Homo sapiens: one gene and its partners. The protein of the gene in region 2 purifies or fractionates together with the protein of the main gene of each other region. This does not show direct contact. Each region holds a gene or a part of one and is shown on either strand. Other genes may lie near its edges. The genes, in order: AP1M2, AP1S3, AP1G2 and AP1G1.

Region 1 (8,054 bases), on a different chromosome or scaffold from region 2:
CTTCCTATCAGAAAAGGATCTTGAATCTTGAAAGAGGCGGGCAAGAGGGATAGACGGATAGACCAGTTAGCCAATGGGAGGCTAGTACCTACCTCTATTGTCTTATACAGGAAGGAGTACACCAGGGAGGCATTGGCATTCTTCGATGTGGTGGCCACCACTGGGGCAGCAAGGTTAAGGAAAAGGTGCCATTTATGGAGAAGTAAATGGAATACAGACCCCGAACCTCCACCCTGTCCCTTGCCACCACCCTCATCTCTACCTGCCCCTGCCCCCCAGCCTAAGCCACAGAGATGTGCGGTGCAACTCCTGTCCTCAGCCCACCCTCTCTTGGCCTGAGCTGCCACCATCGCCGACAGCCCCCACACCCACCTCCAGGGACACCACGTGGGGTGGATACAGTAGAGGTTGCTGTGTTTGATCCATAGGAAGTGGACCTGGCCGTGGCTCAGCAGCGGGGCCAGGGCGCCTTCCTCCTCCCGCTGTACCAGCAAAGGCATGAAGTGCTCAATCTTGCTCATGGCCACATCGCCCTTGTAGTTGCGGCTGATCAATGGCTGAGGGTGGAAGGAAAGGACCTGGTCACCACCAGCATCCAAGAACCTACCACGCTGAGGAGGCACAGTGCCCGGTTCTGACCCTACTTCCTAGCTGAGGGGCTTGGGCAAGGCTCTGCCTCCTTGTGCCTGTTTCCTGCTCTGTAAAATGGGAGTGTGATGACAACAGCTAATGGGTCTAGGGCCCTCACTAAGTGCCAGGCTGTGTTTTATTAAAGGGTAGGCGATGGCTGGACGCAGTGGCTCACGCCTGTGATCCCAGCATTTTGGGAGGCCGAGGCGGGTGGATCATGAGGTCAAGAGATCGAGACCATCCTGGCCAACATGGTGAAACCCCGTCTTTACTAAAAATACAAAAAATTAGCCGGGCGTGATGGCGTGTATCTATAGTCCCAGCTACTCGGGGTGCTGAGGCAGGAGGATCACTTGAACCTGGGAGGCGGAGATTGCAGTGAGCCGAGATCGTGCCACTGCACTCCAGCCTGGCGACAGAGCAAGACTCCATCTCAAAAGAAGAAAGAGAGAAAGAAAGAAAGAAAGAAAGTAAAGAAGGAAGGGAGGAAGGGAAGGAGGGAGGGTAGGAGGGAAGGAAGGAAGGAAGGAAGGAAGGTAGGCAGGCAGGCTGGCTACTAAAAAAAGAGTAGATGTTTACTAACTTATTAGTTCTTGCCACAACCCTGTGGGGTAGATGTTATCATCATCTCCATTTCACACAGGAGAAGTGAGGTTAGAAACCATGTCCACTGGAAGCATATGGAAACTGGGGATTGATCTAAGGCATCCTGGGTCCAGAATCCCTGCTGTTGCCCCAGACTTCATTTGCACCAAAGTGGGATTATTTAAAAAAACAACAACAACAAAAAAAAAAAACAAAGAAGAGGCCAGGTGCAATGACTCACTCATGAAGACCAAGGCAGGAGGATCCCTTGAGGCCAGGAGTTTGAGACCAGCTTTGGCAACATAGCGGGATCCCTCTACAAAAAATTTCAAGAATTAGCTGAGCATGGTGGCCTGCACCTCTGTAGTCACAGCTACTCTGGAGGCTAAGGCAGAAGAATCAATTGAGCCTAGGAGGTCGAGACTACAGTGAGCTGTGGTCATACTACTGCACTCCAGCCCGAGCAACAGAGTGAGACCCTGTCAAAAAAAGAAAGAAGAAAAGAAAGAAAGAAAGAAGGAAAGAAGGAAAGAAGGAAAGAAAGAAAGAAGAAAAAAAGAAAGAAAGAAAGAAAGAAAGAAAGAAAGAAAGAAAGAAAGAAAGAAAGAAAGAAAGAAAGAAAGAAAGATGACAGTTCATATGATTGTGCCTGGTAGTCAGGAAGACACCCATAATAGTAAACACTTCTGTCTGGACACGGTGGCTCACGCCTTTAATCCCAGCACTTTGGGAGGCTAAGGCGGGTGGATCATGAGGTCAAGAGTTCGAGACCATCCAGGCCAACATGATGAAACCCCGTCTCTACTAAAAATACAAAAATTAGCTTGGTGTGCTGGCGCATGACCGTAATCCCAGCTACTCAGGAGGCTAAGGCATGAGAATCACTTGAACCCAGGAGGTGAAGGTTGCTGTGAGCTGAGATCACACCAGCCTGGTGACAGAGCGAGACTCCATCTCCAAAAAAAAAAAAAATTAGTTAACCACTTCCTAAGGTTGTTTTGTCCAGTGTCTGAACAGGGAGGACCCATGGCAGGTTCTCAAACATCTTAGCTCTCACTATTAATATTAATGGGAATATTATTTTCACCACCACTCTTATTTTGGCTATTAAATGACAAGACAGGCTGACTGCAGTGGCTCACACCTGTCATCCGAACACTTTGGGAGGCTGAAGCAGGGGGATAGCTGGGGACCAGGAGTTCAAGACCATCCTGGACAACATAGCAAGACTCCATCTGTACAAAAAAATAAAAATAAAAAATAGGCCGGGTGCGGCCGGGCGCAGTGGCTCATGTCTGTAATCCCAGCACTTTGGGAGGCCGAGGTGGGCGGATCACGAGGTCAAGAGATTGAGACCATCCTGCCCAACATGGTGAAACCCCATCTCTACTAAAGATACAAAAAATTAGCCGGGCGTGATGGTGCGCGCCTGTAATCCCAGCTACTCAGGAGGCTGAGGAAGGAGAATCACTTGAACCTGGGAGGTGGAGGTTGCAGTGAGCCAAGATCATGCCATTGCACTCCAGCCTGGGTGACAAGGCGAGACTCTGTCTTGAAAAAAAAAAAAAATACAAAAATTAGCCAGGCATGGTGGCATGCACCTGTAGTCCCAGCTACTCGGGAGGCTGAGGCAGGAGAATTGCTTCAACCCGGGAGGTGGAGGTTGCAGTGAGCCAAGATGGAGCCACTGCACTCCAGCCTGGGTGACAGAGCAAGACTCTATTTAAAAAAAAAAAAAAAAAAAAATTAAAAATAGCCGGGCATGGAGGGGTCAGCCCGCAGCCCCAGATATTCAGGAGTTTGAGAGCAGCTTTGGCAACATAGCGGGATCCCTCTACAAAAAAATGTCAAGAATTAGCCAGGCATGGTGGCCTGCACCTGTGTAGTCACAGCTACTCCGGAGACTGAGGCAGGAGGATCGCTTGAGCCCAGGAATTCCAGGCTGCAGTGAGCTATGATCGCACCACTGCACTCAAGCCTGGGAGACAGCAAGAGACCCTGTCTCCAAAATAAAAAAAGACAAGAGGAATAAAAGGACTTCAGGAAGAGGCAAGGCAGCCACAGATGGGGGGAGTTAGAGGCCCCTGTTCCAGTTGCCTTCCCCAGGTATTAACACTGTGGATGCCGACAGTGATGGAGATAATTTCAATTTGCTGAGTCCCTAATATTTCCAGAAAGGCCACTATGCTAAGTAGTTTACACGCAGCGAGTTGTATTAATTCTCATTGGGTGGGGACCTCTGTTGCTCCCATTTTTACATACAGAGAAACTGAGGCCCTAGGAGGCGAACCCCTTGGCCTCAGGCACAAGGCGAGTGGATGCTGGAGGTGGGATTCCCAGGGATTGCAGGGGGAGGGGGTGTTCCCAGACCTCTTCCTGGCCCGCGCGGAGGGGTCGCCCCTGAATCCCTGGGAGCGAGACCTCACCTGTCCGTCTCCCAACTCCTCATGCCCAGCCTCACCTTGCCCTTAACGTCCAGAATGAAGACAGCCGAGGCGGACATGGTGGCGGCCGAAGGACTTAGGAGTCGGGGAGGGAGCGCCGGGAGGCGATGGCGGCGCCGCTTCCTTCTTCCTGCGGAAGCGCCTGCGCCCAGGTGAGAGCCCAGGTGTGTGCGTCTTAAAGGGGAGGCGGCCAGGTGAGCAGCGCTGTCGGCCAACTTGAAGATGGCTGCGGGGCCGGGAGAGGTACTGCGACTTCAGATGGGTCTGCTGCCCCCCTTCACTTTCCCTAGCCACCCAGGAGTAATGACGGGTGGAGACCCCAAACCAATCAACCATCCTTCCATCCATTCATTCATCCTTCCTTTCATTCATCTATCCATCCATTCGTCCATCCATCCATTCATTCTTGCATTCATTAATCCATCCACGCATCCACTCATTTAGCCATTCATTAATCCATCTTCCATCGATTCATTGATCCATCCTTCCATTCGTCATCCATTTCTTCATCCATTTTTGCATTCATTTATTTGTTCGTCTATCCATTATCCATTCATCCATCCATTTATTCATCCATTCATTCATCCCTTCTTGCATTCATTCATTTATTCATCTTTCCATTCATCCATCCATTCATCCATTCTAACATTCATCAATTTATTCATCTATCCATCCATCCATCCATCCGTTCATCCATTCTTGCATCATTAATTTATTCATCTATCCATTCATCAATCCATCCATCCATCCATTCTTGCATTCATTAATTTATTCATCTATCCATTCATCCACCCATCTATCCATTCATTCATCCTCTCATTGATTCATCCATCCATTCACCTTCTTTCTCCTCTGTCTCACCCACACACGTCAGCCCCCATACAGCAGGGACTTTGTCTTGTTCATGTTTATGTCCCTAGTGCTCAGCACTGGGTGCTCAAAATTTGCCCAATTCATTCATTCACTCATTCATATAATAATTTTCACTGGTGAATTTTACTGACTGAATTTGAAATATTCATTCACTCAGTAACAGGAACTGTGGATATAATTCCGAGCAGGACAAATGTACTTGCTTTTATTATTCTTACAAATTTACTCTTATTCATTTCAAATAAAAAATTTATTTTTTTTTGTTTTTTGAAATGGAGTCTCACTCTGTTGCCCATGCTGGAGTGCAGTGGAATGATTTTGGCTCACTGCAACCTCCACCTCCCAGGTTCAAGCAATCCTCCTGCCTCAGCACCCCTAGTAGCTGGGATTACAGGCAAGCGCCACCATGCCCAGCTAATTTTTTTTTTTTTTTAGACTCCAGGCTGGAGTGCAGTGGCATGATCTCTACTCACTACAACCTCCGCTTCCCGGGTTCAAGGGATTCTGCTGCCTCAGCCTCCCAAGTAGCTGGGATTACAGGTATGCGCCATCACGCCTGGCTAATTTTGTATTTTTAATAGAGATGGGGTTTCACCATGTTGGCCAGGCTGGTCTCGAACTCCCGACCTCAGGTGATCCACCCGCCTCAGCGTCCCAAAGGGCTGAGATTACAGGCGTGAGCCACCGCACCCAGCCAAAAAACTTTTTTTGTAGAGACAGGGTCTCACTCTGTACCCTAGACTGGACTGCAGTGATGCAATCATGGCTCACTACAGCCTCAACTTCCTGGGCTCAAGCCATCCTCCTGCCTCAGCCTCCCTAGTAACTGGAACTACAGGCACAAACCGCCACACCCAGCTAATTTTTTTTGAGACAGAATTTTGCTCTAGTTTACCAGGCTAGAGTGCAGTGATGTGATCTCGGCTCGCTGAAACCTATGCCTCCTAGGTTCAAGCAATTCTCCTGCCTCAGCCTCCCGAGTAGCTGAGATTACAGGCATGCGCCACCATGCCCGGCTACTTTTTTTGTATTTTTAGTAGAGACAGGGTTTCTCCATGTTGGTCAGGCTGGTCTTGAACTCACGACCTCAGGTGATCCACCCGCCTTGGCCTCCCAAATTGCTAGGATGACAGATGTGAGCCACTGCGCCTGGCCACAACTAGCTAATTTTTTTTTTTTTTTTTAATTTGGAGTCTCGTCCTGTTGCCCAGGCTGGAGTGCAATGGCACAATCTCGGCTCACTGCAACCTCTGCCTCCCAGGCTCAAGCGATTCTGCTGCCTCAGCCTCCCAAGTAACTGGGATTACAGGCGTGCACCACCAAGCCCAGCTAATTTTTTGTATCTTTAGTAGAGATGGGGTTTCACCATGTTGGCCAGGCTGGTCTCGAACTCCTGACCTCGTGATCCATCTGCCTTGGCCTCCCAAAATGCTGGGATTACAGGCGTGAGCCACTGCGCCTGGCCCACACCTAGCTGATTTTTTTTTTTTTTTTTGAGACAGAGTCTGGCTTTGTCGCCCAGGATGGAGTGCAGTGGCGCAATCTCTGCTCACTGCAACCTCTGCCTCCCAGCTTCAAGCAATTCTCTGCCTCAGACTCCCAAGTAGCTGGGATTACAGGCGCCTGCCACCACGCCCGGCTAATTTTTTTTTTGTATTTTTAGTAGAGACGGGGGTTTCACCATCTTGGCCAGGCTGGTCTTGAACTCCTGACCTCGTGATCCACCCGCCTCAGCCTCCCAAAATGCTGGGATGACAGGTGTGAGCCACCGCGCCAGGCCAGGCCCACCTAGCTAATTTTTTTTTTTCTTTGAGATGGAGTCTCGCTCTGTTACCCAGGCTGGAGTGCAATGGCGCGATCTCAACTCACTGCAAGCTCCGCCTCCCAGGTTCACACCATTCTCCTGCCTCAGCCTCCCGAGTGGCTGGGACTACAGGCGCCTGCCAACACGCCTGGCTAACTTTTTGTACTTTTAGTAAAGACAGGGTTTCACCATGTTAGCCAGGATGGTCTGGATCTCCTGACCTCGTGATCCGCCCGCTTCGGCCTCCCAAAGTGCTGGGACTACAGGTGTAAGCCACCGCACCCGGCCCGACCTAGCTAATTTTTACATTTTTTGTAGAGATGGTGTATCGGTATGTTGCCCAGGCTGGTCTCAAACTCCTGGGCTCAAGCGATCCTCCCCCCTTGGCCCTCCAAAGTACTGGGATTACAGGCGTAGTCTGAGCCACTGTGCCTGGTTTGTGCAGATTAAATGAGTTATTCTGTGCAACGTGGTGTTGGAAGGGAACTTGGATGTAGCTGACTGTCAACCATGTCGCTGAGAAGGAGGAGGATGAAGATGATGATCTGGATGATGATGTAGCAGTTGAGAGCACAGATGCTGGGTTTGATTTTTGATACCACCACACACTGGCTATAAGGCATGGGCTGGTGAATGCACCTGCTGTGCCTCAGTCTCCTCTTATGTTAAATGGGTATAACAGCCATGGTGCCCTCTCCTGCAGTTGCATAGCCAAATACCTGGCATGGCCCCTGGCTCCATGCATGTTTCGTGCACACCAGCTGCTGCAGACCCAGATTCCACCCCTGGACTTTCCTTTTTTTTTTCTTTTGAAATGGAGTCTCAGTCTGTCGCCAGGCTGGAGTGCAGTGGTGCGATCTCAGCTCACTGCAACCTCTGTCTCCTGGGTTCAAGCGATTCTCCTGCCTCAGCCTCCCAAGTAGCTGGGACTACAGGTGCACTCCACCATGCCCAGCTAATTTTTGTATTTTTATTAGAGATGGGGTTTCACCATGTTGACCAGGATGCTGTCGAACTCTTGACCTCGTGATCCGCCCACCTCAGCCTCCCAAAGTGCGGTAGTTTTGAGGACAGGGCAGAAGGAAAGGGAAAGTAAACCTCAGCCTTGCTTAGAACCACCTTGCTTGGCTGAGGGAGGGAGATGTCCTGCAGGGCCTGCAGGGAACAAGACTCAGCCTACCCAGACCTCACTTGTCCTTTCCCCAAACCCTGCCCAGCCCTTTATCAGCCCCTGTAGGTGGGGACTTAGAGAACAGCAGCTATCAGGATCATCCACTTGCCTCTCCACCTGAAATTAACATCAACATTGACAGCAGCACTGCACTTTAATTAAAACATTATCATCTGGGCCAGGAGCAATGTTTCATGCCTGTATCCCAGCACTTTGGGAGGCCAAGGTGGACAGAGCACCTGAGGCCAGGAGTTTGAGACCAGCCTGGCCAACATGGCGAAACCCTGTCTCCACTAAAAATACAAAAATTAGCCGGGCGTGGTGACGCATGCCTGTAATTCCAGCTACTTGGGAGGCTGAGGCAGAAGAATCACTTGAACTGGGGAGGCGGAGGTTATAGTGAGCCGAGATGGCACCACTGCACTCCAGCCTGGGTGACAGAGTGAGACTCCGTCTCAAGAAAATAAATAAATAGAATGAAAAATAAAAAGTTATCATCTGGCACAAGTCTCCTTCGTGCCATCTTATAAAGGTAGAAGCAGGGACA
Region 2 (8,427 bases):
CTGTTAAACTCCGGGACAGTGATTATGAAACTTTTTGGATGCCTTTACACTCTTTTTATTTATTTATTTATTTATTTATTTATTTATTTATTTATTTGAGATGGAGTTTTGTTCTTGTTGCCCAGGCTGGAGTGCAATGGCACGATCTTGGCTCACCACAACCTCCACCTCACGGGTTCAAGCGATTCTCCTGCCTCAGCCTCCCAAGTAGCTGGGATTATAGGCATGCGCCACCACACCCAGCTAATTTTGTATTTTTAGTAGAGACAGTGTTTCTCCATGTTGATCAGGCTGGTCTCAAATTCCTGACTTCAGGTGATCCGCCTGCCAATCCCAAAGACCTTTTTGTTTATGTGGGTTATATCCACTGATATTTATTGTATTTGAAATTAAAATGAAAAAATAGATATTAACATATTTTAAAATAATACGACTTGGGCAACATAGGTAGGCTTCATTTCTACAAAAAGTAAAAAATTCCACTGGGCCCAATTGTTCATGCCTATAATCTCAGCACTTTGGGAGGACAAGGTGGGAATATTACATGAGTTCAGGAGTTCAAGACCAGCCTAGGCAACAAAGTAAGACCTCATTTATACAAAAATCAAAAAATTACCTGGGCATGATGGCACACACCTGTGGTCCCAGCTACATGGAAGGCTGAGGTAGGAGGATGCCTTGAGTCCACTGGGTTGAGGCTGCAGTAAGCCATGTTCATGCTACTGCACTCTACTCTGGGTGATAGAACAAGCCTTGTCTCAAAATAAATAAATAAATAAATAGCTGGGCATGGTGGGACATGCCTACAGTCCCAGCTACTCAAGAAGCTGAGGTAGGAGGGTTGCTGGAGCCTAGGAGGTTGAGGCTGCTGTGAGCTGTGATCACACCACTGCACTCAGCTTGGGCGACACAGAGACCCTGTCTCAAAAATAAATAAATAAAAAGAAAAAACAATAGTAAACCTATTACACATTAAACATAAATAACATTTTTATGACCAATAACAATATTTTTCCAAAGCAAAAAAAAAATTAGTGAAAAGCATGGCACTGTTTTACAATTTTGCAAATCTCCTTAATGTCTGGGCTTATCAAAGACAGTTGGACTTTCCTATCTGCATCTGTGTTCAATCTGTTGTACTATCTCAGCTTATGTAGACACAAGAAAACTTCACTGTAGTCTTGTGAGAATGAGAATGAAATGGGAAAATTAATATCTTAGTATTATTATGAAAATAGTTTTGACCTTGCAGACCTCCAGTAAAAGTCTTGGGGACTGCTGGGGGTACCCAGGTCACACTTTCAGAACCTCTGCCTTATGAGTTAGGAGATATTATCTCCATTTTTCAAATGGGCAAACTGAGACAGAGAGGTCAAGGAATTGTCCAAGGCCATACTGCTAGAATAGCTCAGAGTAGCTAAAATGCAATGAGCATAACAGATTTAACCTCAATTGTTTGTTGCAAGGATTGAATGAGATCGTGAATATAAAGAGCAGGACATCCTGCTTGTCTTATCACAAATGCCCAATAACATTAATGTTTCCCCGCCAGGTGCGGTGGCTCATGCCTGTAATGCCAGCACTTTGGGAGGCCGATGCAGGTGGATCACGAGGTCAGGAGTTTGAGACCAGCCTGGCCAACATGGCAAAACCCCGTCTCTACTAAAAATACAAAAATTAGCTAGGCGTGGTGGCGGGCGCCTGTAATCCCAGCTACTTAGGAGGCTGAGGCAGGAGAATTGCTTGAACTCGGGAGATGGAGGTTGCAGTGAGCCAAGATCATGCCACTGCACTTCAGCCTGGGTGACAGAGCAAGATTCCGTCTCGAAGAAAAAAAAATAATAATAATGTTTCCCATTTAGCAAAAACTGGTAGAAAAGCTGGAGAAACTTCCCACATTTCTGATCAACTCATCACACATATGACACCAGCAAGAAAAAATAAAACTCCACCACAGGTATTGTCCAGAGGAGCAGCTTTTCCTTATAGACCAAACCTTGGCCCATTCCTCAGCACAAAAGCAGCCTTTGATGACTCAGAAACGCAGGGCCTTATTCCAGCCTCTGTTAGGCAAATTACACTGGTGGACTGGGCATCTGTCACCTTGTTCCTTGGGAAACTTGAGCAAGCCAAGAAACCTGCTCCATTATTTACAGCATTGTTTTTGCATCACGCTGTATTTACAAGGAACCCTCAACAGACAAAAATGATGCCGCTAGTGTGTGCAGCCAAACCTTTAACAGAAACCAGCAACTGCGGTCTTGCTGGCCAGGTGCTCAGCACTCCCCGGCTCTCTTTGTTGATCAACTTTCTTAGCCCACGTGGCCCACCCACTCCTGCCTCCGGTGGGCCCACAGGGTGCAGGTCACTTCCCTTCTGCGGATTTGGGAAGTGGTAACACACTTGGGGAAGTGGGACTAGTGACGTTCAGACCACCACACTCTTAAAAGGCTGCCCCTAAACAGCAGGCAAGAGCAAGAGGAGCCTGAGCTATCGCTTCCACCCAAGTGCAGGTCACCAGATCTCTCATCAGCAGGGCTGCGGCCGGCCTCAGCTTCCAACCTGACCCCCTATCCCCTGCCCTTACACACCCCAGTCCATTCTCCAACCACAGCCAAACTGCACACCATGCCGGGTGCAGTGGCTCACCCCTGTAATCCCTACACTTTGGGAGGCCGAGGCAGGCGGATCACCTGAGGTCAGGAGTTCGAGACCAGCCTGGCCAACATGGTGAAACCCCGTCTCTACTAAAAATACAAAAATTAGCTGGGTGTGGTGGCACACGCCTGTAATCCCCGTTACTCGGGAGGCTGAGGCAGGAGAATCGCTTGAACCCGGGAGGCAGAGCCGAGACCACACCACTGCACTTCAGCCTGGGCGACAGAGCGAGATCAGTCTCAAAAAAACAAAAGTGCACAACGGGTAAGGTCAGTTTTCTTGCTAAAACGTCCCCGAGGTTTCCCCTACTCAGTTGGAACCAAAACCAAACTCCTTATTTTGGCCTATAAAAACCCGCCTCACCTGGCAGAAGCCCACCTCTCCTGCCACAAACAAGGCCTTCTCCCCTCCGCTTTGCTCTCTCTAATCCACCTGTAGCGCCCCTCCAGGACCTCCAGCAGCTAGAATGTCATGTCCTTGAAGAGGCTTTGCCAAATCAAAAGTTGCCACTCCACCCGGTTGTATTTGAGACTTTACAGCGCTTCTTACTTTAGAAGTTCTCTTCATTTTACTTGTATATTGGACGTGTCCCTCCCTCCGCATCCCCCTCCTGGAAGGTAAGCTTCCTGGAGAACAGGGGCTCCTCCTGGTCCCCCGCGACATCCCCAGCGCCCAGCACCGAGCCCGGCACAGACTAAGCACTCGGCTAAGGCGGATCGAATGAATGAATGGAGCCGCGGCGCCGCGGCGCCGCGTTGCCGCAGGAATCCCGGGCAAGCGATCCTGGCGCGTCCGCACCGTCTGGGGCAGCGGGGCCACAGGGACGCACGGTTCGGGTGGCCAGGCGGGACTCGGCCCGCACCCCCACCCGGCCGCGCGCCCGGCCCGGACGCCCCAGGTGCCTCCCCGGAGCGCGAGCGCCCCCACCGCCTACCCGGGCCGGCGGTTCCCCCGCACTCACCATCGTGGCTGGGCCGCCGCCTCCCCCGCCTTGCGAGCAAGGAGCGCTGGAGAAGCGAGGGCGAGAGGCGAGCGCTGGAGCCGGTGCGGCTGACAGGTGAGGCGCCCGGCTTAGACCATGGCTGCTTCCCACAATGCCCTGGCACTGAAAGTGTGCAGACTCCTCCCAGCGCGGCTGCCTCCTCCCTGCACGCTCCTCCCCGCTGCCTCCTCCCCGCGCCCTCCTCCCCGCTCCCCCCGCTCCTCGCCCTCCTGCTCTCCTTCTTTCTTCCTTTCCCCTTTCTCCTCCCTTCTCCTCCTCCTCCTCCTCTTCCCTCCTTTCTGCCTCTCCTCTGTACCCCCTCCCCGCCCCCGCCTCGGCTGCAGCTGTTCCCGCCCCGAGCCGGCCGCACCTGGAGCGAATGCACCTGCGCGCGCGGGCGTCTGTACCCCGACAGCCCGCAGCTCGGCGCGGGTGGTCAGGCGAGAGCGCGTGGCCCGCTAGGAACTCCCTGCGCGGGGAACTCCCTGCGCGGAGAACACCGGGGACTTTTCGCGATTCTGCCGCGCGAGTGTGTCCTGTATTCCTTCCGCAAACGTTTATCAAACCTGGCAAAGATACTTCCGATACACTCGCAGAAAGTGCCGGGGGCTGCCTTATCCTAAGCCTCCTAGGGAGGGAGCAGTTGGAAGAGAAAGAACTAGAAGCGTTTTCTTATCCCCTTCTGCCCCCATTTCACTTTTTAAAAAGTAAGCTCTGCAGTCTAAGGGCAAAGATCATTTTAAGCAGGCCCCCATTTATTTATTTATTTATTTATTTATTTATTTATTTATTTATTTATTTAGAGACGGAGTGTCGCTCTGTCGCCCCGTCTGGAGTGCAGTGGGGCGATCTCGGCTCCCTGCAACCTCCGCCTCCTGCGTTCAGGGTGATCCACCCGCCTCGGCCTCCCAAAGTGCTGGGATTACAGGCATGAGCCACTGCGCCCGGCAGCACGACCCCCTTTTAAGAAGTCTCTCCTAAGAAGTTGTGGTGTAGAAAGTTCGTTCTCCAATCTCTCCTCCCCTTGACTTTTCTTAAATCTAGGGCGTTGAGAGTCTCTAAACCCCCAAGCTGTAAACAGAGTTTTTTCTTTTTTCTTTTAATTATATTTACCAGATAGACTAGATGTAAGCAGAGTTTTTAATGCATATTCATGTTTTTGAGAAAGGGAGTCCACTGGTTTTATCAAATAGCTAAAGAGATCCTAGACCCTGCAAAAGTTAAGAATCATTTCCTGGGCCAGGCGTGATGGTTCATGCCTGTAATCCCAACACTTTGGGAGGCCCAGGTGGGCGGATCGCTTGAGACCAGAAGTTCGAGACAAGCCTGGCCAACATGGTGAAACGCCGTCTCTACTAAAAATACAAAATTTAGCTGGGCGTGGTGGCACACGCCTGTAGTCCCAGCTACTAGGGAGGCTGAGGCAGGAGAGAATCGCTTGAACCCGGGAGACAAAGGTTGCAGTGAGCTGAGATCATCCAGCCTAGGTAACAGAGTGAGACTCAGTCTGAAAAAAAAAATGTCATTTCCTGGGTGGTCCCTGGAACCCCAAATCAGTGAAAGTCCTTCCCAGGATGTGTTGTGTACCTTCCTAGGGATGTAGGCCCACCCAGGTGACTGAAAATATGGGAAACTCCATCCACCCCTGCATTCACACTGCAAATATTCATCACTCTAGGCCAGGCCCTACAACAGGAGCCTGGGGGACCCAGCTGGGAACAAACAGGTGGTCTGTCTCCTGGAGCTTACGTCTCTTGTGGGACAACACATAATAAACAAGTAAATAAAATATAAGAAATTAAGATGAGTGCTAAGAAGGAGATATTTGAGTTCCTCGGATGGGCACAGGGAAGCTACATTGATTTAGCTGAGTGGTCAGGTAAGTGCCCCCTGGGGAGGTGACAGAAGACTTGGATGTGAGAAGCCAGCGCTCTGAAGAAGAAGAAAAAAAAGTCCTTCTGGAAACACTTCAAAAAAGGCCTCTATGTGAGTTAAGTGCCAGGAGGCCTAGAGGTGGGCAGGGGCCAGAGGCAATGAGTGTTCTCTACATTAGGGCATCACTGCAAGCCCCCAGGAGAGCCACAGCCTCCAGCCTCAAAGCTCTCAAACCTGGACTTGTGGCATTCTGCCGGGGGCATTGGAAGAGGACTATTTGACAACAGTTAAACCCCAGGCGATGGGATGATTTTGCTTCCTGAAAGAAAAGTGAATCTAGGACAGCTACTTTTTAACTCCTATGTTCTTCCCCCAGGGTCTGTTCCTTCCCTTTCTCAGTACATCATGCTTTATCTAACTAGATAGAATCTAATCTTTGTGCTTCTCCTCCTTTCTAGGTAACTTCAGGGCAGGGCCCAGCTCTGTGCCACCATCCAGAGCCTTGTGCTGTAAGGGTTTCTTTGCTAGTGGGAAAGAAATGGAATTACTAAAGGTGAATTACAAAGCTAAAGAAATCTCAGGCCAGGCGCCGTGGCTCATGCCTGTAACCCCAGGACTTTGGGAGACTGAGGCGGGGGGATCACCTGATGTCAGGCGTTCAAGACCAACCTGGCCAAAATGGTGAAACCCCTAATACAAAAATTAGCTGGGTGTGGTGGCGGGTGCCTATAATCCCAGCTACTCAGGAGGCTGAGGCAGGAGAATTGTTTGAACCCTGGAGGCGGAGTTTGCAGTGAGCCGAGATCCCCACTGTACTCCAGCCTGGACGACACTACGAGATTCTCGCAGAAGAAAAAAGGAAAAAAAAAAAAAAAAGCTAAAGAAATCATCTCAGTGCTCTTGCCATGACAGTTAAGTCAAATATTAAAGCAGGAAAGGCCAGGAGCGATGGCTCATGCCTGTAATCCCAGCACTTTGGGAGGCTGAGGCAGGTGGATCACCTGAGGTCAGGAGTTTGAGACCAGCCTGACTAACATGGTGAAACCCTGTCTCTACTAAATACAAAAAATTAGCCAGGCATGGTGGCACATGCCTGTAAGCCCAGCTACTTGGGAGGCTAAGAGAATGGCTTGAACCTGGGAGATGGAGGTTGCAGTGAGCCGAGATTGTGCCATTGCACTCCAGCCTGGGCAACAAGAGCTAAACTACATCTCAAAAAATAAAAATTAAAAAAAATAAAGCAGGAGAAGTTTCCCTTACTGTGTGGCTTATGGTTGGAGGGGGTGTAATTAAAGATGTAGAGGTTGAGGGGGGCAGGTAACTTAAAAATTATTAGTGTCCTTTGCCTTTCCTCCTGGCCTGGCTGAGATGGGCAGAGGATGCTCTCTGGGGCCTCTGCCACCCAGTGTTTTTTCCTCCAGATTCTCACACCATACCCCAAATCACCGAAGAGGGAGGCCTGCAGTGAGCTGGACACTTCACAGGGTTATCTTGGCTGCCCCCAAAACAATCCGTAAGAAAGGAAGCACTGTGGCCATGGTACAGATGAAAGCCTGAGGCTCAGAGGCTCAACAGCAATAATAAGAGGCAGGCCGGGCACAGTGGCTCAGGCTTGTAATCCCAGCGCTTTGGGAGGCCGAGGCAGGAGGACTGCTTAAGTTCGGGAGTTTGAGATCAGTCTGGGCAACATGGGAAGACCCCATCTCTATTTTAAAAATAATAATAATAAACTAAGTGTAAAAAGAAGCTAATAAGAGGCAGGGATAAGCCTAGAATCAAGGCACTAAGATTCAAGATGGTTCCCCCTAAAGCCCTACCCCTGACAGACCTACTCAGAACGCAACAGTGAGAGTTAAGCAGTGTTTATTTCATCAGTCATTTGTCTCAGAAGAATAACATGCATTTTTAAGCTTTGACTTCTCCTTTAAAAAAAAAATTCTGTAGAGATGGGATCTTACTATGTTGCCCAGGTTGATCTCGAGAATCCCTGGCCTCAACGGATCCTCCTGTCTTGGCCTCCCAAAGTGCTGGGATTACAAGCATGGGACACCACACCCAGCCTTAGTCTTGACTTCTGTATCCCATCTTTGCTTCTGTTCAAACTCCTGACTCCACACGTGGCCCACAAATAGCAAAACCCCAGGGAGGACCCAGAGGCCCTATCACTCAAGATGTACCAGTCTAAAGAGGAGTTCCCTGGTCAGATCCTAAAGAGGCTTTTAGATTCAAAATCTAATGTCCTAGAAGACAAGTACAGTGTGTTACATGGTTCCGGTTAGGTTGTTTATGAGCTGGTGCATGTGATTCTGTGTGTGTACATTTACTCATAAAACAATGCCCTGGCATTTGGTCAACTTGATTTAGGAGTTTCACTTCTCAGATCATTCTATATTTAAATATTAGCAGAAGATGCAGAGAGAATGCAGCAAAAGCCACCATCAAGTCCACAGCAAGGGAGAAGAGCAAGTTAGGGACCTGATAATAAAGTAAAATAATAATAATCTATAAACCAAAATACTGACTTCACAGAAATTGAGATAGATCAAGCTGTGAGTTTAAGAAACTGAAAGAAGCAAAGGAGAGGCCAACTTCAAAGTCGGCTTATGCAGTGCCTTCACAGGCATTAATTGAAGCCTGGTCCTGCTGTTCTTTAATGCCCTCTTATTAATGTCTTAAGTAATCAACATCTCCAGTAATCCCTTCTGCAGCATTCAGAAATTCATCTTGTCATGGTGAAACTTTTAGTATGAGGCCTTATGCTCTTTAGAAACCCCCTTTACTTTTCAAAAGAGGGCCTATTATTCCAAATGGAAAAACTCTACTTAATATATTTCTAAAGAATATTTTCAGAAAATTTTTAATTATAAAATAATATAGGTTCATTGCAGATTTGGAAAACACAGAAAAGTGTT
Region 3 (6,843 bases), on a different chromosome or scaffold from region 2:
TGAACAGCTCCAGAGAGAGGCCACAGGAGACTGAAGATCCTGACCACTGCCTGGGCTAGGGGTGTCACTTCCTAGAAGGGGAAGGGAACTCTGGGTCTAACGGAGTCCACTCCTGGGCCCACTGTGCCTCTCCCCTCAGTGTCCCTTCTGACAGTGACTCCTCTCTCTCCAGCGCTGCCTGTTTCTTCCCCCTCCTCTAAGCTACTCTTCCTTGAGCCCTCCCTGGCTGCTTCCTCTCGCTCATCCGTCAGATGCAATCTGTGGGCCGCCCCTCTCCCCTGGCCGCTAAGCAGCCTCCATTGATTTCCGCTCGTGTTTATAGGATTTCCACTTAGCCGTGATCAGTAGTTAAGCACAGGAAAATCCCTTGCCACCCCCCCTCCCTTGGTCGATGCCATTGATTCTGCCAGCGGCTCCTAAACCGCCTTACAGCTGAGTTAGAAGATGAGGAGAGGCAGCAGGGATTTCCCTGCCTTGGGATGTGGGAAACAGAAGAAAAGTTGAGGAAATGGTTGGGAATCGCTGTTAGAACTCTAGAAATTCTAATCTGACTTTGCCACTGTGCCCAGCTCTGGCCCAGAGGGTAGAGTGCCTCCTGTGGAAGTTTAGGGGCAAATTTGTTCCCTGACCTGGAGAGGGTTAGAAAGAACCAACAGCTGCCCCCTCCCCGCCCCCGTGTTGAGACAGGTTCTCAAGGCTCAGGGGAAGATGCATACCTCCTATGTAAGAATGCTCTTCCCTTGCTGTTATTCATACACACTTTCCACTTCAAATATACCCAAATATGGCTTTCCTCACTTCTCAGGCTTTATTGGGCTTTATTTGTGGGAGAAGGGGGCTGGTCCCCAGTTTTTGCAGTGCAAAGCCAGAGCGCCACCTGCTGGTAGCCCTCAGGTGTAGGTTCGAAGCTGCTGGGGCCCCCTGGGGTTTGGGACACAGGAGAATTTCAGGCTGTGAGTGGAGACAGTTACTGCCACGATTCCACAGGCAAGTTGTTCACCTCAAAGATCTCCTGCACCGACTGGTGAAAGTGGTCGTAGGTGAGGCGCAGCTTTAGCCGCAGGGGGGCCTAGGAATAGGAGAGCAGGGACCAGGGTTAGCACCCACGGCTTCTTCTATCCCTGGGTCTTGTCTTGGGGGAACTCCTGAAGCTCACCTTGTTAGGATTGAGGATTCTGAAGAGCTGGGTGATAGGAAGGCCACCCCGAGCTGGAACTGTGTTCCCACTGGGGGCCTGCAGCTGCAGCTGGAGACTCTGAACACAGGAGTTTAACAGAGCACAGTATGGCAGTAGGTAGGGCTCAGGCAGCCCCTCTATACTCAGTGGCTCCACACCCTTTTCCTGTAACTCCCCAAGTGCTGATCTCCAGATGACTCAATCCCATCTCACACTGTCTCCCACCCACCTCCTCCACTTAGTGGCCTTTTCTCCTGGAGTCCCCAGGCCACCTCTGAACTCTGATCTTTACAAACCTTGGGCACAGCAGCCTGGCAGATGAAATGGGTGACATCACCCTCTGAGAAGTTGGTGGCAGTGATGGTGATTAACAGCAAAGCAGGGTTTTCAGGGGGTCGAATGAAAGACAGATTCAGCTGTACTCCCTCACGCTCAAACACTTTGAGATCTGGGATGGGAGCTGGAGTAGGGAGACAGAAGCAGCTCAGTGTGCAGGTTTGAGAGAACATGTTTGTTCATTCATTCAACAAAAATTGAGTAAACACCTACTGGCCCTGCACTACTCGAAAGGCTAGTAACAAAGTAGACATGTAGATGAGGATGGAGCTTACTGTCTAATGGGGGAGAGAAACAATAAAAAAAGGCCGGGCGTGAGCCAGTAATCCCAGCACTTTGGGAGGCTGAGGTGGGTGGATCACCTGAGGCCCGGACTTGGGAGGCTGAGACACAAGAACAGCTTGAACCCGGGAGGCAGAGGTTGCAGTGAGCCGAGATCACGCCACTGCACTCCAGCCTGGGTGACAGAGCAAGACGCTGTCTCAAAAAAAAAAAAAAAAAAAAAAAAAAAAAGGCAAGATAATTACAGACCATAATAGATGCTATGAAGGAAGTAAGTCATGCCAGAATAACTGGGGAGAACTGACTTAAATAGGAGTGGTAGGGGAAGGCATCTGACATTTTAGCTGAAGCCTGAAGAGTGAGAATGAGCTGGTCATTTGATGTGCTGGGGAAAGAACATTCCATGTAAAAAAGAACATGAAATGCCAAGGGTGGGAGGGTGTGAGGAGCTGAGAAGGGGGCAGTGAGTGGGTAGTGGGAAAGTGGTATAAGAAGGGTTGGGGAGGAAGCAGGGCCCTGTAGGCCAGGGAAAGAAGTCTGGAACAAAGGGAAGACAGATGACCATGATTGACTTCATTCTTTTACCTCCTGAGATGGCGATGGGATGGGGGACACACAGGAAGAAGCAGGGTCCATGAGCCTCAGCCCTTGGCTTAGGAGGAGGAGCAGTACATTTCCACCTACCTTCTCTAAGACATCTTCCCTTTGCTTAGGCTTACCTGGGGGTGGAGGTACACAGGGAAGGTCAAGCAGGTGTACCAGGGCACCTCCTGGGGAGGGGTCCAGATGGGGAGGATGCTGGACATCCCCAGAAGCCCCATCCAGGAGATCTAGCAGATCCAGGAGCTGTGAGGCCTGGCAGAAGGGACAGAAGGGGCAGGGCTGGGTATGAAGCTCAGCCCGTCTTCCTACCCCAGAGTTTCTAGCCTTCTCACCTGGGGCTCTGTGGGCACTGGGGCTGCTTCTGAAAGCTGGGCTGCTTCTTTGCTTTCCTTTGCTTCCTCATCAGCCTGAGGGCCATCTCGCTCCACAAGAGGCATTTTTTCCAGGATGGCAGCCCTGAGAGGATGGAATGCAAGTGTGCCTCTGTGTGGTCTCTGGGCCTTTCACAAGAGGCATCTAGGATGAGGACTAGGAATATGGAGCCCTGGGCACATGGTGGCTCAGAAGTACCCTTCTGATTTCCTAAAATGACATGTTGTTGCTGATTTTCAGATGAACAAGGAGGGTTGGAAGCCAGCTTAGCTTCAATTAACAGTGGGTGGGAAGCTCTCACCGTGGATATGGAAGAACACAGGTGAGGATGAGGCCCTTGTACCTAGAAAAGGGCATTTGGGAGAGGGCAGGGGTTTGGGTCCCATGCTGCAGCACAGTGCTGGACACACCTCATGTGGTCGTATTTCCGGAAGAGTGTGTCATACTCCACAGCCCGCTGCTGCAGCTCCACGTCCAAGCAGCTCCCGTAGATGGACACCACCTGGCGGATGCGGCTGGGCCAGTGTAGTATGTAAGTGGCTATGGCAGTGTGCCACTGCAGGATGTGGCAAGAAGGAAAGGCCCACGGAGCAGGGAAATACCCAGATTTGGCTCAAAAACAAGAACCTAAGGGCTAGGGGGTAGGGAGGGCTGGGCATGTATGCCTGGAAAGAAACTCAAAAATGGGTGGACCCAGTGACAGGCCATCTCTCAAGGGGCTGGGACCCCTTCTTACTTGTTGTCCCCACAGAGGCGAGTGCTGAGCTTCATGAGGGCTGTGAGGGCATATCCTCGAGTGGCTGGCAGGGACATGTGGGACTGCAGCACCTTTTCCAGCAATGCCAGCACTTCCTCTTCGTCCACCTTCAGACATGGATACAGTTAGTGGCCCTGGTGCAAGTCCTGTCCCCCTGACAAGTCCCTCCTCAGTGTACCCCCAATGAGGTCTCACCTGAAGGGGCTCAATCTCCTCGCAGTTCCCTGCCAGCAGGAGGTCCCCATACTCCCCAATGCACCAGGCTGCCACCTGCACCAGTGGTTGCTACATGGGATAAGAAACTGCTGGGCTGGCCAGGCATGGTGGCTCAAGCCTGTAATCCCAGCGCATTGGGAGGCTGAGGCGGGAGGATTGCTTGAGACCAGGAGTTCAAGACCAGCCTGGGCAACAAAGCGAGACCCCCCCCATCTCTATTTTAAAAAAAAAAAGAGAGAGAGAGAAAGAAAGAAACACTGCTGGGCCAGTGTCTGAGGTCCCCTCCTCACTTCCAGACCTGGCAATATCCCTTTAGGCAGTGCAGAGATGGTGGGGGGTTGGAGGAGTGGGGAAAGGGAAGTTTGTTACCTGGCTCCCACTGCCCTCTGGTGGCCAAGCATCAGAACTACATGGCCTAACCAAACAGGATGGAAATGTGAGAGGGTCCCTCCCTTGTGGAAGGGGTGGATGATGCTTTCTGCCCACCCTATTTAATTAAGATGGAAAAGGGGGCTATAGATACTGGCTGGCATCTGTTAATTCATTCAGCATTCAAGGTAATAATAAAACCTCATAAACACAAGAGCTTTAATCTCAAGGCAGCTCTAAGAGGCAGTCAGGGTACATGGAGCATAAGGGAAGTTAGTCATCTGTAGTTACATAACCAGGAGGTACCAGAGTCAGGACAAAAGCCCAGATGTTCTTAAAAACAGGGCTCTGTGCTCAGATGTCTTCTGCACTGTGTAAGCAGCTGTGACCTTGAGAGAAAAATTGGAATCTAGTAGGGAGGAGGTGGCCCAGGATGGGCAAGGGAGTGGTTGGGCAGCCCTGGGCCTAGGTAGGTGGGAATGGTACCTGGGAAATGTCTTCTGCCAGGGCATTGTAGAGGCGGCGCACAGAGTAGGCATGTAGCTCCTGGGCCCCCCCAATCAGCTGGGTCAGGTTGGCCACTGCATCATCCCGCACATGGGTGCCCGCCTGGAAGGTGTGGGCATGGCCAAGTCAGTGTGGTGAATCTTGACCACTTCTGCCCAGCTCTCTGACTGGCCCCTGCCTCACCGTTGTCAGCACATGCAGGATGGTGTCTATGTGCCAGCGTTTGGTTGGAGCAAACCTAGGGGATATATGGCTCATCAGTCCTGGTACTGACGCTCCCCAGATTCTACCCTCTTCGACTCCTGGGCACCTCACCTCTCTGCAGCCAGCAGGATGCCTGAGGCACAGTCAGCCCGTAGGTCAGGAGGGCAGGACTCCAGAAAGGCCTGCAGCTCTTGCATCATGGCTCGCACATTGGAGCTATTTACCAGAGCCAGGCTTAGTTCCAGGGCTCTCCTGGCAGGAGAAAGAGGTTTCCATGCAGGTAGCCCAGGTCATCCTGGTCCATGCCTCAGGCCCTCTGCTTCCCCAGGGACCTGTCCCCCTTAGTCCCCTTACTCCAGCTGCTCTAAACTGGCTCGAGTCTTGGCCACAGGGCACTGGGAACCTCTGCCCTGCCCTCCTGTCCCCTCTATCACTGCTCACCGGCTGAGGGAGGCATCAGTTTCCCGTAGACATTCCACCACAGTGGGCCGATGCCGCTGCACAGCACTGTGATCAGACTGCACCAGTCGAAGCAGTGATGTCAGGGCTACATACCTGGTCAGGATGGGGGAGGTTCTATCATACCATGGCCATCAGCCCCCACTCCCCGTCCTGTCCTGGGTATAGGGATAAGATAAGAGAGAAATGGATCAGGAGGCTCTGGAGGAAGGAGGGCAGAGGGCCAGGGGATCAGTGGCACAGCCTAGGTAGACAGTTGGGACTATTACCTAATGTTCCTGTCACTGTTGAGTAGGAAGCGACCAAGAATGTTGACAGCTAGAACCTATGAGAGGCAGAAGTTGGGGTCAGTCGGAAAGGAGCAACCTGCTCAGCCATTGAGGACTGGGAACACATTGGCGCAAGATGATGGGGCTAGGAGGGAGAAACCAGCAAGCAGGACCTGTGTGGGTGAGGTGGTGGGCGGGGCCGTAGTGGGAGAGGCATAAGGGGTGATACCCGTAGGCCAGCTGCAGAGCGGATATCCATGATGGTGAGTACTGTCTCAAACAGGACCGCATTTCCGGCATTTCGGCTGGTGTCCGTGTTAGTGGCCACCTGAGTGGATGAGAGAGGAGATGTATCTGCTCAAGGCCCTCCTCAGGTCTCCTTTTTTTGATACAGGGTCTCACTCTGTCGCCCAAAGCTCACTGCAGCCTTGACCTCCCAGGCTCTGATGATCCTCCTGCCTCAGCCTCCTGAGTGGCTGGGACTACAGGCACATGCCAACAAGCCCAGGTAATCCTCAGGATTCTTGAAGGACTCCAACATGTTATCTGTCCATCCTTCAACCATCCAACAAAGTTCCCTGAGGCTCTACTATGTGCCAGGGCCAGCCTGGGCACTGGGGCAATAGCACTAAGACAGACTGTGTCCCTTCTTCATGGAGTTCACTGTCTAGAGGAGATGGAGAGGCAATTACACGGCCACTGCACAGTGACGAGTCATGTGAGGGGCACCCAGGGCTGATGGGGTCTCCAAGCAACACAGCTAACCAGTGCCCTCCCAGGCCCCACCTGGGCCAGCAAGTCATTCATGGTCTCACTGCTCTCCTCGTGGTTCCGGCCCAGGATCCGAAGCAGACGAAGTATCTGGACCTGAGGTTGGGTTGAAAATGGAAAGTTGGAGGGGTTCATAGGATAAGGAGTCGTGGGGCTGAGGAGAAAACTCCAACATGTGAGGGTCTGGCTCGCTCCCTAGAGCCTTCCCCCACCTCCTCACCTCCACAGGTCCCTTGGTCCTAGGAGGGGAACAGAGGTGTGTGAGGCCAGGGGAGTTTAGGACAGGCTTAAAAAAAAAATTGTTAACAAACTGTATTTTCCTGACTTTTAGGCATTCCCTCTCCCCTCACAGGTCCTGGGATGACCCGAGCAATCCTGTGCCTGCTACTCTGCTGCCCAGGACACTGAGAGAACCAGTGTTCTCTGGGAGGAAACCACTGGTCATGGTCTTACTGCTATGCCCTCTCTGATCCAGGGATACAGCAGTGAAAGGTCACCCCACCTGCAGGAAGGGGTCGCTG
Region 4 (8,118 bases), on a different chromosome or scaffold from region 2:
TGGAGATTAAGCATGAAATTAATCATATTATAGTTAAAATGTCCAATTGCACTTAGGACTTTTTTACTGTCTATAACACAAGTTTGTTGTTGTTGTTGTTTTTGAGATGAAGTTTCACTCTTGTCACCCCAGGCTGGAGTGCAATGGCGTGATCTCGGCTCACTGTAACCTCCGCTTCCTGTGGTCAAGCAATTCTCCTGCCTCAGCCTCCCGAGTAGCTGGGATTACAGGCATGCGCCACCACACGTGGCTGATTTTGTATTTTTAGTAGAGACAGGGATTCTCCATGTTGGTCAGGCTGGTCTCTAACTCCCAACCTCAGGTGATCCGCCCACCTCGGCCTCCCAAAGTGCTGGGATTACAGGCGTGAGCCACCGCGCCTGGCTACAAGTTTTTAAGTGATTCAAATTCCTCTCTTGGTGAGACTTATGTGTGAAAGGAATACTAACAGGTCAGTAAGTTAGCTCAACCTCTGGAATAAGAATTCATCTAAGTCTTCTAATCCAATTGTAAGAAGCAAGGAAGCAAATTTTAAATCATTGGGTATTGACTTTTTATTATTAGTCACTGTTCATAATTTGTTTCAACCAAAAGACAGTACACACAGCAGAATTCTAATGCATCCCATGTAAATGTTTACATCCATTTTATTCCTCACTCGCCTCTAAGACTTATCATTTAACTTTAAATTTTTTTTTTTACATCTCAAAAATATGTCTGCAATAATTAGAGCTTCATTAGCTGTCCCACTTGGAAACAGCTTTTTAATATTTTTACAGTAAAGAAGATGTGATGGGGCATAATGAAAATGTAACTTACAACACTAAGAAAGAAAAGGGCCTTTATAGGAACACAGTGGGAGTTCATAAAGGAAAGAGTTCAGAAGCTCTTTCCCATGGGGCCCCCAAATGGAAAACAAAAACAAAACACACAAAGCGCAACCGCAGGTTCTTTGAGGGAAGAAAAAAAAAAAAAAAAAAACCAACTCCAAGGCTCCATCTTGAAGCCAGAATCAGCCTCTTGGAAGTCTGTAAAGCAACTGTGCAAGCTGCTTCGGCATTTCCTTCTGTTAAAGTGTTCCAGGTCCTGGAACCCTGTCGATGGGACCCACTCACTGATATTGCTTGAAAAAGTTATTCACTTCCAGTTCTACAAGCAGCCCCACTCTCCCGAGCCAAAGCTGGTCAAAAGTGTTTTAAACTTCAGGACTTTCTGTGCAATTCTCTCTCCAATGATCCTACCCACTCCCAAAGTCATGAATACACAGACATGTAAAACCACTCTCCCAACTACAAAGTTCATGAACACCCACTTTTTCCTCTCTAGTTTTCTCAGTTTAGGACACTGTGGTTAAAATACATTCACTAGAAAAAAATAGACACATTCAAACTCCTTTCCCCTAGTTCTCATGGCCCAAATATTTTCCAATGCAGAAGATAATGAAGTTGAACCTTGAAAGCAGTACTCCCTAACTTCCAATTTCTACGACATAAAAAAAATGGGAAGCATGTTATATAAACCATTAGTGTTGGACAGTTTTAAAAGTCTATTTTCATATATGAATGGGACAAACAAGGAGTACAAATCACACCTTTAAACTAGCAAGAGGAAAGAATCCCCTCCCAAATGTTACACTGAGGAATGTTTCTTTAAATGATAAAGACCTTAAAATTAACAGATGATCACTATGCACAGCCTAAAACTTCCGTGACTGTCCAAACCACCTCAAGGTAACAGCACCAAAGCACTGTGGGAGAAGCTTCTCAGGGAGAGCACCCTTCCTACAGTTTTTTGAGATTACTTAGATGAATTAATTCTCCTTTAGGATTCCCCGGGATGGGGCAGAAACTAGAATAGAAACGACTCTTGAAGAGGGAAATAATGAAGTACAAGTGCATGTGAAATTGTCAAAGTAAGTGTGTGAGGGCTCACTGCTTATCACCCCAGGGTTATCAAAACAGCCTTGGAAAATGCTCTTTCCTCACAATGCCTGTGAAGTCGTAAATCCATCCAAATTTGCTCCCCCTTGAGTGGTTATACTCGGGAAAGGAATTATTGAAATGTGCAAGTATTCAAAGAAATTGAAACATTTCTCCATTTAGCTGCAAGGCCAAGTGAGAGGAAAACTAATTCTGATCCTAGAAACTAAGGCACGCTGAAGCTTTCAAAGATCCAATCATTTGAAACAGTCTTCACAACCATCAGTATCCTAGGCAGTTATTTGGCTGCTAGTCCTTCAGTATGGTGCTTGTGTTCTGATTCCAAAATCAATTCATATTCTACGCAGCACCCTTTGTGTTAAGGCCATGATATTTTACTCCTTCTAGACAAAGCTATGAATGATCATAAACTCTACCTCGAAACTATGATCACCCAAGGAAATGCTCTGTCAGCAGAGTAGACCCTTCCCAGCTCCATTAGCTGACAGTGTCTTATAGCATGGTCTTGAACAGATTTCTTCAGAGATTCAACCCAGTTCAAATAAAAAAACCTGAGCTGGTTAGCTACAAATATAAGAGAGAAAATAAAGCCTCTACACAAAGAGGAATGTTAAGACAAATTCTATTCAAGAAATCCACCAACATTATGTTAATCCTATCATGTTTCACAGCATTAAGTATCCATCCAATGAAATCAGTCTGCAAAGAAACCCTTAAAGGCTATTTTTCATTGCACAGGCAGAGCAGTTGTCTGAAATATGCACTAGTCCACACTTACATTACTGAAAACTATGCAGGAGATATTATCCTGTTCTTGACTCAGTCAACCATTTACCCAGTGGAGTAAGTTTTAGCAGATCTTGCTCATACACACTAGTAAGACCAGAAACTTTCCCGTGGAGCCTTTAGTTCAACTCCAGTTTGTCAAATGTTAGGAATATTCCAGCATCTGATACAGAGCTAGATTTGACAAGACACTGAAGATTTTAAGTAAAGGCTTGGTGAAATGAAGGGGAAAAAAAGGGATATTTGTTTCCAGGTTTAAGATTGAAGCCATAGTAGTCATTATACTGTATTCAATACAGTAACAATTGCAAACATTGTAAGAGCAAGGTGGGCCTCACTTTTTCTTTCTTCAGTATATAAGACATGGCGCCTGAATACTTGAACATACATAGTACATTCAATGTGTACCACAGAGAGAGTCACCTCTACTTCATTCCAGCAACTCAATTTCAAAGTTTGATAACATATGGGTCCTTTCTAAAAAGCACTTGGCACTCTCACTAGTTTAAAAAGCTCAAGTCTTTGATGTGAATATTCATGAGATTCGTCTTTTAAAAGAGACCAATTTCTCAGACTGAGGAAAGGCTATTCCTACCCTATGGTGTCCGTAAGACCTCCTCTGACATAGGGGTATGGAAGCTACAAGGCTTCACTCCAACACCATAAAGTACAATATGGAAAGATTTCTTTAACCGTGTGGTCTTTATTTCAGTGCCAGTGTTACAGATACAACACAAATGTTCCAGTTAGAAGGAATTCAAACGGAATGCCAAGGTCCAAGCCAGGCTCAAGAAATAAAAAGGGAGGTTTGGAGTAATAGATAAGATGACTCCAATACTCACTCTTCCTAAGGGCAAAGGTACTTTTGATACAGAGTCTGATCTTTGAAACTGGTGAACTCCTCTTCCACCCATTACCATAGTTCAAACAGGCAAGTTATGGGCTTAGGAGCACTTTAAAATTTGTGGTGGGAATAGGGTCATTAATAACTATGAATATATCTTTTAGAAGGTGACCATTTTGCACTTTAAAGGGAATCAATTTTGAAAATCATGGAGACTATTCATGACTACAGCTAAAGAATGGCGAGAAAGGGGAGCTGGAAGAGCCTTGGAAGTTTCTATTACAAATAGAGCACCATATCCTTCATGCCAAATCTCAACAAAAGCTCTTTTTAACTCCATCTGTCCAGTGTTTACAAATAAACTCGCAAGGTCTGACCAGTTCTTGGTAACAAACATACATGTGTGTGTCTGTGTGTATACAGCAATGCACAGAAAAGGCTACCAGGAGCCTAATGCCTCTTTCAAACATTGGGGGAACCAGTAGAAAAAGGCAGGGCTCCCTAATGTCCATTATTACATTTCCATTCCGAATGCCAGATGTTAAAAGTGCCTGAAGATGGTAACCCAGCTAGTGAGGAATAAATACCCCACCTTGCCCAGTCCACAGAGAAACAACAGTAGAAAGAAGGGGCAACTCTTTGCTGCAGAGACAAAGTGAGTGTTTTTTCGCCATGGATTGCAGTCCTCTCCTCCAGACCAGCTGCTTATTTCCTCAGGGGCCCAGGGAATGTTGATTCTGGCTGTAAATGTGGGAGGGGTGGAGAAGTGCGGAAAAAGGAGAAGAGGAAGAGTGCAAAGTAGCCTCCAGAAGCAGCCAGCCTCAACAGTGGAGGAGAGGACATTAGTCTTTAACAATGCTTCAAGGTCAGCAGTAACTTTAGGAAAATCCTCCTCAGCAGTTCTCTTCAGCTCCTCATGCCCGTGGTACAGTTGGGGGGGACTTGCCAGCAATCACAACCTCCTTCCCAGAGTTCCTTTGATTGAGTGGGATAAAGAATGAGAATGGTGCCAAACCCTCATTGCCAGGACTGAGGGGGAAAGTTGTTCACCTCTGCTAGATCTTGCATTGCTGAGCCCTTGTGATTATATGTAAGCTTGATCCGCATTCGCAGCTGTTGCTATAAGAGGAAAAGAGAAGTGCAAATTATATACTGAAATGAAATCTCCAGAATCTGTCCGGTCCACAAATAGACTTTTAATCTTAGAGGTCAAAACTTAAAGCAAAGCTGTCTGTTAAGAATGACAGGTAAACAACAACAAAAAACACCCAGTACTCTAGGCTTGAGCCAAGAAGCTAACAATGTCATGCCACCAAGTTGAGAAAGCGCATCTGCAGAATACACGGTTAGCTTTAATCCTTGAACTGCATTAAAAGGACAGAACTCCTTGGGAGCATTTTTTCTTTTCTTTTCTTTTGAAACAGGGTTTTGTTCTTATTGCCCAGGCTGGAGTGCAGTGGCACAATCTTGGCTCACCGCCACACCAGACTAATATTTTTATTTTTAGTAGAGACGGGGTTTCACCATGTTGGCCAGGCTGGTCTTCAACTCCTGACCTCAGATAATACACCCACCTCAGCCTCCTAAAATGCTGGCATTACAGGCGTGAGCCACCATGGAGCATTCTCCTAGTAACATTTTGCTGAGTCCTTTTCAAAAAGATTCAAACCTTGTATCCAAGTCTCTTAAAAAATGAGGTGAACATATACTCATCGTACGCTCTCCATTCAGATACACTGTTGCTTTATCTGAAAAACCTACAGTAAATGTGAACATGACCTTTTGTTCCTAAAGCATAAAATTTTAAAAAATGACTTAACTCACAGGTAACAGCAGTAGTTTTAAGAGAACTCAATTAGACACTTTTTGTATGGCAGATTTCAAATACAAATGCACTAAGACATTTTTTACTCTCTGTATCAGATGGTCAAAGGAGTTTGTGCTTGTACTATAGAGGCCGATGCTCAAAATATAGTGAATAGCAGAGGAAAGGCAAGTGTTACAAGAGAAAGAAAGTATACTGTTACTTATGAGCAACTAGTAGAGCTCTATTAAAGAAATTCTCTGAACCATTTTCAAAAACTGAAAACCAACTGATTACTATTAAGGTGAGCTTATTTCTTTGAGAAGAGATAATAAAAATATTGCTTAATTTCAGTTTCTAAAGCTATTTTTCATTTGGCTGCTTCATTTAAAATGCCTCTATTTTTCTATTCATACTTAATAACTGTAGCAGTAAATGTAGGTATTTGGTTTCAACAAATGCTCTTACCTCAGATTTCAACTTGTGTATAAATTAAAATGTCTAAGCTTCTCCCCTACCCCCAAAAACCAGACCTTTAATCTAGCTTTTTTTGAAGTTGCATTTTAATAAGATGCCACTAAGCCACCTGATGTCTCTGGGTTCCATTTGTTATTTACAAAAGAGCAAGGAAGTTAGACCAGGCATTTTCATTGATCTCTTCTCTAACTATGAGTCAGAAAAACCTAAAGAAACAAAGCAGAATTTTATTTCGGGAAATATGCTTACACTTCGGCTCAGATATTGGCTACAAATGTGCTACTCACCTTCTGAGGGTTCAGAACTTTAATGACTTGTGTGATGGTCCCCGTGTTAAATGCTGGGACAATGCTGCTGCTAGGAGACAAGAGCTGCAGCTGGAATGTCTAGGGGGGAACAAAGGGCACTCTTCAGAAAAAGAATTACACAACGCTAGGTCAGAGATACCAAAAACCATTTAGACACCCAGATGATGGGTCAAGCAACAGATTTCACTACTACTAAGTTTTGCCTACTACTTGTTTTCTAGATATCAGGAATTCACAGCACGTGAGTTGACTCCCTGTGGTATTTGTAAAAATCCACTGTTCGGTTCTTTGATCATGACAACTAGTAATAAACCACATTCTCCTTTCTGGCAGAAGGAATTCTAGCCTACCTCTTTTCAAAAGCTGACCAATTCTTCTTCTGGCAACTTCACTTAATGGTAACTGATCAACTATGCAAGTAAAATATCGGTGCTTTTGGCTTAAAAAACAGCCAGAAAGAAATGAAAAGAAAAGCTTCCCAAAAATAGCAAACCAACATACTGGTCACCAACTATAAGCTTTTAGGCTTTTGTGTGATTGGATAACTGGGATGCAGAGACTTGAACTTTTGTTTTTTAAAGCCTGCATAATCTATAATGTGTCAGAGCCTCCTCTCCACATGACAGAAGGAACGGAAAGACTTGCAGAACCAGCCTATACAGCAAAAGACCTAGATAAGCCAAACAGTATTAATTTGTTGAATGCTGGTGGGGTTTATTTGCTTGCTTATAGAAATAAGAGTTGAAAGTGCTGGCTGGGTGTGGTGGCTCAAGCCTGTAATCCCAGCACTTTGGGAGGTCAAGGCGAGCGGATCACGAGGTCAGGAGTTCGAGACCAGCCTGGCCAACACAGTGAAACCCCGTCTCTACTAAAAATACAAAAATTAGCTGGGCATGGTGGCACATGCCTGTAGTCCCAGCTACTCGGGAGGCTGAGGCAGGAGAATCGCTTGAACCCAGGAGGTTGTGGTGAGCCGAGACTGTGCCACTGCACTCCAGCCTGGGCAACAGAGCAAGACTCCGTCTCAAAAAAAAAAAAAAAGTGCTATATAGGGCAAGCTAGGTAAACCATACTGTACTACGTAGCTATTGTATGAACTAGCATTTGAAAATCTTTCCTAAAAGTAGATTAAACTTCTAAAATATTTGAGAGAGAGAGACACTAGTCTTCTCTAGGGCCAAAAGTTGCAAGAGTGAAGATTCACTCTCAATGTACAGATATATTACACTGGGGGCTGGGCACGGTATTCCCAGCACTTTGGGAGGCCAAGGCGGGCAGATCACCTGAGGTCAGGAGATCTAGATTAGTCTGGTCAACATGGCAAAACCCCATCTCTACTAAAAATACAAAAATTAGCTGGGTATGGTGGCGCATGCCTGTAATCCCAGCTACTCAGGAGGCTGAGGCAAGAGATTTGCTTGAACCCAGGAGGCAGAGGTTGCCTGGGTGACAGAGTGAGACTCCATCTCAAAAAAAAAAAAAAAAAAAATATATATATATATATATATATATATATATGGTCTTATTCATAATTCTGCCACATTAAAATTATGTAAGCTAAAGTATTATTCATTACTACCATATTTCATTAAATGTAAGATACCAATCGTAATTCACACCATTATTTTATGTACCACTGAGATAGAAAACATGCTGCCCACTGAATTATGACAAGATACCAATTTTTAAATGTATCCTAATTTTAGAAACATTAAAACACGAAATTAGTACATAGTAGAACCTATAAAATATGACTTTTTTTTTTTTTTTAGATGGAGTCTCGCTCTGTCGCCCAGGCTGGAGTGCAGTGGTGCGATCTCGGCTCACTGCAAGCTCCATCTCCCAGGTTCATGCCATTCTCCTGCCTCAGCCTCCTGAGTAGCTGGGACTACAGGCGCCCGCCACCACGCCCGGCTAATTTATTATTTATTTATTTATTTATTTATTTATTTATTTATT

What was found.
Region 1: the proteins of AP1S3 (region 2) and AP1M2 purify together in Homo sapiens (affinity purification with mass spectrometry; 3 studies listed by BioGRID and IntAct, with this or other methods). This does not show direct contact.
Region 3: the proteins of AP1S3 (region 2) and AP1G2 purify together in Homo sapiens (affinity purification with mass spectrometry; 2 studies listed by BioGRID and IntAct, with this or other methods). This does not show direct contact.
Region 4: the proteins of AP1S3 (region 2) and AP1G1 purify together in Homo sapiens (affinity purification with mass spectrometry; 2 studies listed by BioGRID and IntAct, with this or other methods). This does not show direct contact.

Annotation. Positions count from the first base shown.
Region 1 is NC_000019.10:10,583,514-10,591,567, forward strand, and holds the start of AP1M2 (AP-1 complex subunit mu-2), read right to left. Parts: upstream 3,800-8,054; 5' UTR 3,719-3,799; coding exon 3,677-3,718; exon of another isoform or gene 3,642-3,676; intron 558-3,641; coding exon 401-557; intron 161-400; coding exon 93-160; intron 1-92. UniProt on the Homo sapiens protein: Subunit of clathrin-associated adaptor protein complex 1 that plays a role in protein sorting in the trans-Golgi network (TGN) and endosomes.
Region 2 is NC_000002.12:223,833,829-223,842,255, forward strand, and holds the start of AP1S3 (AP-1 complex subunit sigma-3), read right to left. Parts: upstream 3,755-8,427; 5' UTR 3,623-3,754; coding exon 3,620-3,622; intron 1-3,619. UniProt on the Homo sapiens protein: Subunit of clathrin-associated adaptor protein complex 1 that plays a role in protein sorting in the late-Golgi/trans-Golgi network (TGN) and/or endosomes.
Region 3 is NC_000014.9:23,558,782-23,565,624, forward strand, and holds the end of AP1G2 (AP-1 complex subunit gamma-like 2), read right to left. Parts: coding exon 6,825-6,843; exon of another isoform or gene 6,675-6,824; intron 6,419-6,674; coding exon 6,338-6,418; intron 6,060-6,337; exon of another isoform or gene 5,946-6,059; intron 5,880-5,945; coding exon 5,781-5,879; intron 5,608-5,780; coding exon 5,552-5,607; intron 5,441-5,551; coding exon of another isoform or gene 5,383-5,440; exon of another isoform or gene 5,379-5,382; coding exon 5,265-5,378; exon of another isoform or gene 5,076-5,264; coding exon 4,935-5,075; intron 4,858-4,934; coding exon 4,803-4,857; intron 4,722-4,802; coding exon 4,599-4,721; intron 4,502-4,598; coding exon of another isoform or gene 4,424-4,501; exon of another isoform or gene 4,318-4,423; intron 3,813-4,317; coding exon 3,723-3,812; intron 3,635-3,722; coding exon 3,507-3,634; intron 3,327-3,506; coding exon of another isoform or gene 3,311-3,326; exon of another isoform or gene 3,296-3,310; intron 3,286-3,295; coding exon 3,181-3,285; intron 3,093-3,180; exon of another isoform or gene 2,855-3,092; coding exon 2,731-2,854; exon of another isoform or gene 2,651-2,730; coding exon 2,515-2,650; exon of another isoform or gene 2,316-2,514; intron 1,638-2,315; coding exon 1,474-1,637; and 6 more. Other genes in the region: THTPA (thiamine-triphosphatase), read left to right, coding at 1-59.
Region 4 is NC_000016.10:71,728,471-71,736,588, forward strand, and holds the end of AP1G1 (AP-1 complex subunit gamma-1), read right to left. Parts: intron 6,238-8,118; coding exon 6,139-6,237; intron 4,690-6,138; coding exon 4,588-4,689; 3' UTR 530-4,587; downstream 1-529. UniProt on the Homo sapiens protein: Subunit of clathrin-associated adaptor protein complex 1 that plays a role in protein sorting in the late-Golgi/trans-Golgi network (TGN) and/or endosomes.